Homo sapiens: one gene and its partner. The protein of the gene in region 2 purifies or fractionates together with the protein of the main gene of each other region. This does not show direct contact. Each region holds a gene or a part of one and is shown on either strand. Other genes may lie near its edges.

What was found.
Region 1: the proteins of SLC25A33 (region 2) and FAM170A purify together in Homo sapiens (co-immunoprecipitation; one large-scale study listed by IntAct). This does not show direct contact.

Annotation. Positions count from the first base shown.
Region 1 is NC_000005.10:119,632,423-119,636,502, reverse strand, and holds the end of FAM170A (protein FAM170A), read right to left. Parts: intron 3,756-4,080; coding exon 3,615-3,755; intron 2,544-3,614; coding exon 1,769-2,543; intron 1,476-1,768; coding exon 1,469-1,475; 3' UTR 1,417-1,468; intron 804-1,416; 3' UTR 681-803; downstream 1-680. UniProt on the Homo sapiens protein: Acts as a nuclear transcription factor that positively regulates the expression of heat shock genes. Binds to heat shock promoter elements (HSE).
Region 2 is NC_000001.11:9,580,650-9,584,464, reverse strand, and holds part of SLC25A33 (solute carrier family 25 member 33), read right to left. Parts: intron 2,167-3,815; coding exon 1,964-2,166; 3' UTR 1-1,963. UniProt on the Homo sapiens protein: Mitochondrial transporter that imports/exports pyrimidine nucleotides into and from mitochondria. Selectively transports uridine, thymidine, guanosine, cytosine and inosine (deoxy)nucleoside di- and triphosphates by an antiport mechanism.

The DNA of each region.
Region 1 (4,080 bases), on a different chromosome or scaffold from region 2:
CAGGGGACTATGGCTGTATTTGTAATCATTTTTACTTCAAAGCCATCTGAAGCAAACGTAGAAAAATGCTAAGCTTAATAAAGCGGGATGATGGAAACATAGGTATGTAGTGGAGTTTGTCATGGTCTCATATGAAATGTGATATCCAGCCTTGAAAAAATTGTCACACAGAAGTCTAATCAAACCCAGGAGCTTGGCTATTGCTGCCTCTGGAAAAGGCTGGTAGATATCTTTAGTGCTGATGTAAAACTTCGTTCACAAACCACTGGAGAGATAGATGAAAATAATGAATAGGGCTGGGCGCCGTGGCTCACGCCTGCAAACCCAGCACTTTGGGAGGCCCAGGCGGGTAGAACACTTGAGCCCAGGAGTTCGAGACCAGCCTGACCAACATGGTGAAACCTCATCTCTACTAAAAAAATACAAAATTAGCTGTGTGTGCTGGCACATGCCTGTAATCCCAGCTACTTGGGAGGCTGAGGCAGGAGAATCACTTTAATTCAGGAGGCAGAGGTTGCAGTGAGCCGAGATCATGCCATCGCACTCCAGCCTGGGCAACAAAAATGAAACTCCATCTCAAAAAAAAAAAAAGAAGAAGAAGAAGAAAAAGAAAAAGGAAAAAAAAAGAAAATGATGAATAGATAGGTAGATTAATTTGTTAATTAAATAATATATCCAGGTAAGGTTTGAAACACAACCTTTATTACGTATGATGTTTACATGTTAGACTGAGTGCTGGTCCCTCATCTGCTTCATACCTTGGGCAGCCTGTCTGCTACTATCTCCATGGCTCTTTCTTCTCCCTGGAAGTGAAGAAAACAATTGAGGCAGAAGAGGAAGAGGCAAGAAACAATACAAGCATTGCTAGTCAGTTACCCTTCACCTTTGTTTTGAAGCTCAGAGTCATGCAACCCACAGTGAGTTCATTTCCAGATCAAATGCAGCAAAATGAAGGTTCTGAAACATTTCCAGTTCTCTTGGTGTCTCATCAGGATGATGTTGTTACCTCTCCAAATTCCCCTTTTCCCCAAGGGCTATATCTATGGGCTCAGGTGGGATCCCAGCTCAGGCCAAAGGCTCTCAGACTCCACACCTCTGATCTTGCTGGCATCCTGTCCTTTCAGGCCAATCCTGGCCCTTGAGGTTACACTGAGCTTCCGCTGCCTAGAAGAGCTGCAGCACCTCCTCTTAGAATTGAGGACAATCATGCAGACATTGAGAAAGTTCCCAGTCAATGCTCTTCACCTTGTCATCTAAGCAAATGGAGGACAATTCCCCCAGAAGCACCAGGTGCACGATAAGTTGATGTGGCTGCAGAGCCACCAGGTGACCCAGTGCATCCCTGCAGCTCCTTCCCTTGGATTCCTCTGGGCCCTCACAACACAGCCTCAGAAAACTGCAAGTCTCACTCCTTACCTCTTGCAAGAGAAGGCCACACCATCTTCCAGTATCTTCTGGCCCATAAGTCTCAGCTGCTGTGTGAAAATCAAACCAAAGAAAGACACTTCTTAGTTAATGCGACTTTTGAAATTCTCAGAATTTCCTGCAGGAGCTGGAAAGGTCAAGACAAATCCTGACTTACAATCGAGACTTTATTAGATGCCTAGGCAAGAAGCAGGGATCCCAGTTATGTCCCCCTCCATTGTTCCCTGAGCCAATAAAGCCCCCAAATCTTCCTTACAGAGACCTAAGCCTGAACTGGGGAGACAGTACTGGCTCGGGGAAGCCATTGCTCCCTCAGCAGACCCACAACCCAGGCTTTGCTCACTTCCTGTCCTTTGGAGAATGAAACACACAGCCTGGACATTGGCTCCAGGATCTCCTCAGGCCAAGGTCTTCTTCTGTGGGCTGCCCCTCCTCCTCCTTTGCTTCTGGTTTCTCTTCCTCCTCCTTCTCATTTCCATTTTCCTCCTCCTGCTCATCTTGGGTGCTCTCTGATTCCATGTTGCCTGTCAGCTGAGCCATGGTGAGATGAAAGACGTGGCAGCTGAAGCCCTCTCTGATCCCAAACTGCACATGCTCCTGGAGGGCTTCCATGGTGGTGAACACCCGGCAGCAGGCCATGCACCTGAAGCCGTTCTCCATGGTCACCAGCCAGTCAGGAGTCTTGGCTCTGGGTGTGTCCTCAACGGTGGGTGAGCCTGGCAGGCTGTCTGATTCTGTCCTTTCCTCATGCTCTTTCTCCTCCCCACTGGGCTCACTGTCAGACAGGAGGTTTCTGGTGGACACATCAGAGGGGGGAGTACCTACCCTCACAACCTCAGAAAGGGTCACTTCTTCCATCCTTGGCTGCTTTTCTAAGGACTCCAAAGTTTCCTCTGTCTCCCAGGAGACAGCCACACCTTTGTTCATTTGTACCTGCATGTAGTATATTTTCATGCCCCTTTCCTCTTTGTTTACACACAGAGAGGACACACAAGTCTTATAGGATGAATAGGACGACAAGGAGACATGTTGTGAGCGGGGAGGAGTCTCTCCTCGTTCCTGAACCTGGGCCAGGGGTGATTGAGGCTGGGGGCTGTCTCGATGTATTCTCTGGATTCCTGGGAAAGGAAATTAGAAACATGAGCAGATGCATGGGCCATGCTAGGAGCTGAGGGAACGTAAGTTAAATATGTGTGGTGCAGGAGACAGGGACTGTGGTGAGATGCAGCTGTGTAGTGAGCTTGGTATTTGTTGTTCATATTGTGGGGTAGTGATTCTAGTGTCATTTGCGTGTAGGGATGTTGGTGGGGTGTCCATATACAGGGGTGTGGAGTATGGTGGTGAGGACTGCAGCATATGTGGAATGTCGGCAGCATGTGTGTGCTATGAGGATGTGAGTTGGTGCCATCATTGATGTGTTATTTGTGGAATGTGGGAGGTAGTGTGGGAGAATGGCACTGCAGGTCATGCATTTGGGTGGTGTGTGTGCAGAAAGTGTACCTGTGGAGCGTGTGGCTGTATGTGTGAGGTGTGTGGGCCTGAGCTAGAGTCCCGCTGCAGTGCTGGAGGCCTGGGCTGAGGAAATCTGTCTTTCTCTGGAAGGCAAAGGCAGAGCCCAAATAGTTCCGATGAAAGTGCTTAATCTGGTCCTGTGGCCCTACACCCCAACAGCAGACTTTTCTGGCCTCTGCTCCCTGACTGCCTGACTGCACACCAGGGCTCATGCTCTCCTACACTGAGCTTATATCCATGCTCTTCTAACAGCTCTGTCATCTTGCCCAGACACCTCTGCAGAGCTCTGATCATATCCAACTGCCCTGGGTTTCTTCTTAGCCTCATCCTTGGATCTATGGGCCTCCTGCCCCCTACCCAAGGAGCCCTGCACCCAATCCCATGCCTAAGGAGTCCAGCACCCAAAGAGTCACATACCCATAGCGCCCTGCATCCAGAGTCTCATGCTCAAGGAACCTCACACCCAGAGAATGTCACATCCAAGGAGCCCCACACCCAAAGACTGTCACACCGAAGGAGCCCCAAACCCAAAAAGCCCCACTCCCAAAGAGTCTTACACCCAAGCAGCACTGCAACCAAAGAGTCTCATGCCCACAGAGCCCCACACTCAAATATTTTCATGCCCAATGAACCCCACAGCCAAGGAGCCACGTGCCGAAGGAACCCTGCACCCTTACCACTGTGGATGAGCTTGCGTGAAGAAGAAACGCAGGAGCAGTATTCGGAGGTAGAAGTAACTTCTCCCACCCCTTGGCTCCAGCCTTTGGCCACTCTAGTGGATCCAGGCTGCAGGGCATCCTCTTGGGACTTTGACATTCCTGAGAAAGGTATGAAGGGAACAGAGATATGATGGATGGGTAATGTTTGTGCATCATTTACCATCCAACAAATATTTACTGAGTGGCTGACCTATGTCAGGTGTAGTGAACACACATGGTTTGTGAGACAGGCTTCTGGTGGATACTCCAGTATTTAATTACAGTCAACAGGTATTTTGATAGTGTATCAATAGGAACATAGGCCTGTGTGGTGACTATGAGTACGTCTGAAGCGTAAGAGTGATACATACCAGATAGCCTTTGATATGTGTAGATTTGTGTGGGTATATTGTAGAAACATGTGTCTGTGTCTGTGGAGTTTGTG
Region 2 (3,815 bases):
TTGTGCCACTGCACTCCAGCCTGGGAGAGACAGAGCGAGACTCCATCTCAAAACAAAACAAAACAAAACTTCTGGAATAGCATTACTGTCATGTATTGTAAAGTACAGAAGCTTCACTAAAGTCACTCATTTTGACTTCTACGTAGTTGTTGGAGCAATTACACTAGAGTCAAGAACCCCAGTTAAAAGTAAACTCAATTTAAAATAACTTGGAAATATCCTCCTCTTAACCCTACCAGGGTGTCTGCAAGTAAACCTGAAACTACAGTGCATAGGTATTAGAAATGAGTATCTTTCTAGACGTTCAAATTGAAAACCAACCTTCATGTACAATATACTCAAATTCCAGTGAAAGAGCTAATGGAAGACTAGGGGTTTTACTTGCCTTCTTCTTAGTATCATCTTTTTGTTCCCTTATTAAATTTGCTTTAAAACCAAGGGGGTAACATCCTGGTTTTTTTTTTTTTTTTGAGATGGAGTCGCACTCTGTGGCCCAGGCTGGAGTGCAGTGGCGCCATCTCAGCTCACTGCAAGCTCCGCCTCCCAGGTTCACGCCATTCTCCTGCCTCAGCCTCCCGAGTAGCTGGGACTATGGGTGCCCGCCACCACGCATGGCCAATTTTTTTGTATTTTTTTAGTAGAGACGGGGTTTCACCGTGTTAGCCAGGATGGTCTCGATCTCCTGACCTCGTGATCTGCCCGCCTTGGCCTCCCAAAGTGCTGGGATTAAATTTTTTTTTTTTTTAATGTTGAACTAGGATATTTAAACAATCCCAGTGCTTTCTATCAGAATGTGAGCTCTCTGACGGGTGAGCCATAGTCCTACGTTGTGCTCCTTTTCTGCAAGAGCAGAGGTCCAAGAACAGGGCTAAAGACCTCAGTGGGAATGACTGTTCTTCATCACATTCTGGATTCACAGCCAAACAGGGTAGCTGTGCTGTCAACACACTTAACAAGGCAACTGGTCTTAACTTCCGGAACTATATCCAGGAGCCAGGCCATTGATAAAACAGTTCTTTAAAAATTCTTGCCTTTGGTTCAAAGTAGGGAGAAAAGGATAACTTCAGGAAGTTTTTTATAGCTTAAAATATTGAGTCTCAGAAAGTTATATATATTCATCTCAGCAGTCTGAACGCTTAGATGATCAATCTGCAAGTAATTGGAAATGTACAAAGAAGAAAAATTGCTGGGAAGTTTGTCCTGGTCCACACACCACCACCAAAATGTGACACAATTTTTTTTTTTTTGAGATGGAGTCTCACTCTGTCGACCAGGCTGGAGTGAAGTGACGTGATCTCAGCTCGCTGCAACCTCTGCCCCCTGGGTTTCAAGTGATTCTCCTGCCTCAGCCTCCCAAGTAGCTGGGATTACAGGCACACGTCCGGCTAATTTTTGTATTTTTAGTAGAGACAGGGTTTCGCCATGTTGGCCAGGCTGGTCTGGAACTCCTGACTTCACGTGATCCATCTGCCTCGGCCTCCCAAAGTGCTGGGATTACGGGCGTGAGCCACAGTGCCCAGCCAAAATGCGACACTTCTTCCCTGTCTAGCAGTGCAAGATCTTAAAGTCAGATTATAAAACAAGTTGTATTCTCACTTTATCATTTTTCTCTGCAGTTCTAGGGCAGGTTTATCTGAATTACTTAAGTCCTTCATAGTATAGTGAGCATAAAAGAGGACACAAGCCAAATGTATACTTAAATTAAATAGCATGATTTAATTTAGTTGGTGCTTAACCCTGAATCCTCTTAAGTTAAAAAAAAAGTTATAATTAACTATTAACGTTAATGAATTTAAACCTTCCAGAAAGCATGAATCCAAAAGGAAATGTCCAACAGGTGATATGAACCAGATATTTTATGGCCTTTCCTGTTTCAGTCTCAAACTTTCTAAACATCAATGGGGAAAAAAAATTCTCTAGAGTTTTTCAGTTTTATTCTTCTAGAGCACAATTTTCCGGCCTGTTACTGAGTACGGTCTTCTAACAGGTACACAATTAACTCATAAGTAGACAACACAATGGCAGTATTTGGGATCTGCCGGATAAGCTGGGCAAACAGTCCTCTATAAAAGGCAAGGTAGCCTTCTTCCCGGAACACCAGGCGCGCCGTCTGGACAAAAGACTTGTACTTGGTGCCCTCTTCCCGGAGCCTCGTCCTTATGACTTCTGCAGAGAGAGAAAGACCTACTTTACGCCACATATTAAATGGGGAACGAATCCACAGCACACAACTTTAAAACTGTCAAGGTTAGGCCGGGTGCGGTGGCTCACACCTGTAATCCCAGAACTTTGGGAGGCCGAGGCGGGTGGATCACTTGAGGCCAGGAGTTGGAGACCAGCCTGGCCAACATGGTGAAACCCCGTCTCTACTGAAAAACAAAAATTAGCCAGGCAAGGTGGTGCACGCCTACTACTAGAGTGGCTGAGGAATGAGGATCGCTTGAACCTGGGAGGTGAAGGTCGCAATGAGTCGGGATCGTGCCACTACACTCCAGCCTGGGCCACGGAGCAAGCAAGACTCTGTCTCAAAAAATAAATAAATAAAATAAAATTGTCAAGGTTACAACTGTGTCTATTTCCCACCTCAGCTGTATTTGGACAGGAAAGTCACATAACCTAGAGAGACAATGAAAAATTAAGTTCTTTTTAGAACCTTTTCCAACTCTAGGATTTGGTCAACTATGGACACTTACACATACACGAAAGTACAAAATAACTTTTTTTTTTTTTTTTTTGAGGCAGAGTCTCACTCTATTACTCAGGCTGGAGTGCAGTCGGTACGATCTTGGCTCACTGCAACCTCTGCCTTCTGGGTTCAAGTGATTCTCCTGCCTCAGCCTCCTGAGTAGCTGGGATTACAGGCACCTGCCACCACACCCAGCTAATTTTTGTATTTTTAGTAGAGACGGGGTTTCGCCATGTTGGCCAGCCTGGTTTCGAACTCCTAATCTCAGGTGATGTGCCCATCTTGGCCTCCCAAAGTGCTGGGATTACAGCAAAATAACTTTTAAGGGGTTAAAAAAAGCTTAGTTTCAATGAGACTTAATGTTAAAATAATTCATGGTTTTCTACTCCCAATTAAGCAAATGCTAATTTGTATGAAGTATGGCAATACCTTCAACGAATTCTTTTCTTATATTTTTCAGTTTCCTCCTCCTCCTGGAAACGTTTTCTACTCTGCCCAGCTCAAAAGCCACCCTCTCCTTTGCCAGCCTTTGCCCACCTGGGCCTCCTTCCCAGACACCTAGAGTTGGACATTCGTCACTCCTGCCCTCACACAGACCTCAGACCCTGGGAGGCATCACTGACCTCTTTCCTCAGATGTCCTCTGGGGTCAGCTTAGTGCTCCAGGACACAAAGGGGACTCAGCACCTGTTACTGAGTTGACTGTATGCATTTGCCATAGCTGACAGTACAGAAGGCTTATGAAAATAAAACCTGTTTTTCATGGCACAATAAACTAAGCATTTTTTAAAATAAGTAGGCCAGTAGGTCAAGAATTCTATAACTCAAAAAAATAAACTTACCCAAAGTAGCCTTAAGGCTCCATTAGAAATAGAGGCTGAATGATTATTATTATTATTATTATTATTATTATTTTTTTTTTTTTGAGACAGAGTCTCGCTCTGTTGCCAGGGTGGAGTGCAGTGGCTTGATCTCGGCTCACTGCAACCTCCACCTCCCGGGTTCAAGCGATTCTCCTGCCTCAGCTTCCCAAGTAGCTGGGACTACAGGCGTGCGCCACCACGCCCAGCTAATTTTTGTATTTTTAGTAGAGACGGGGTTTCACCATGTTGGCCAGGCTGGTCTCAATC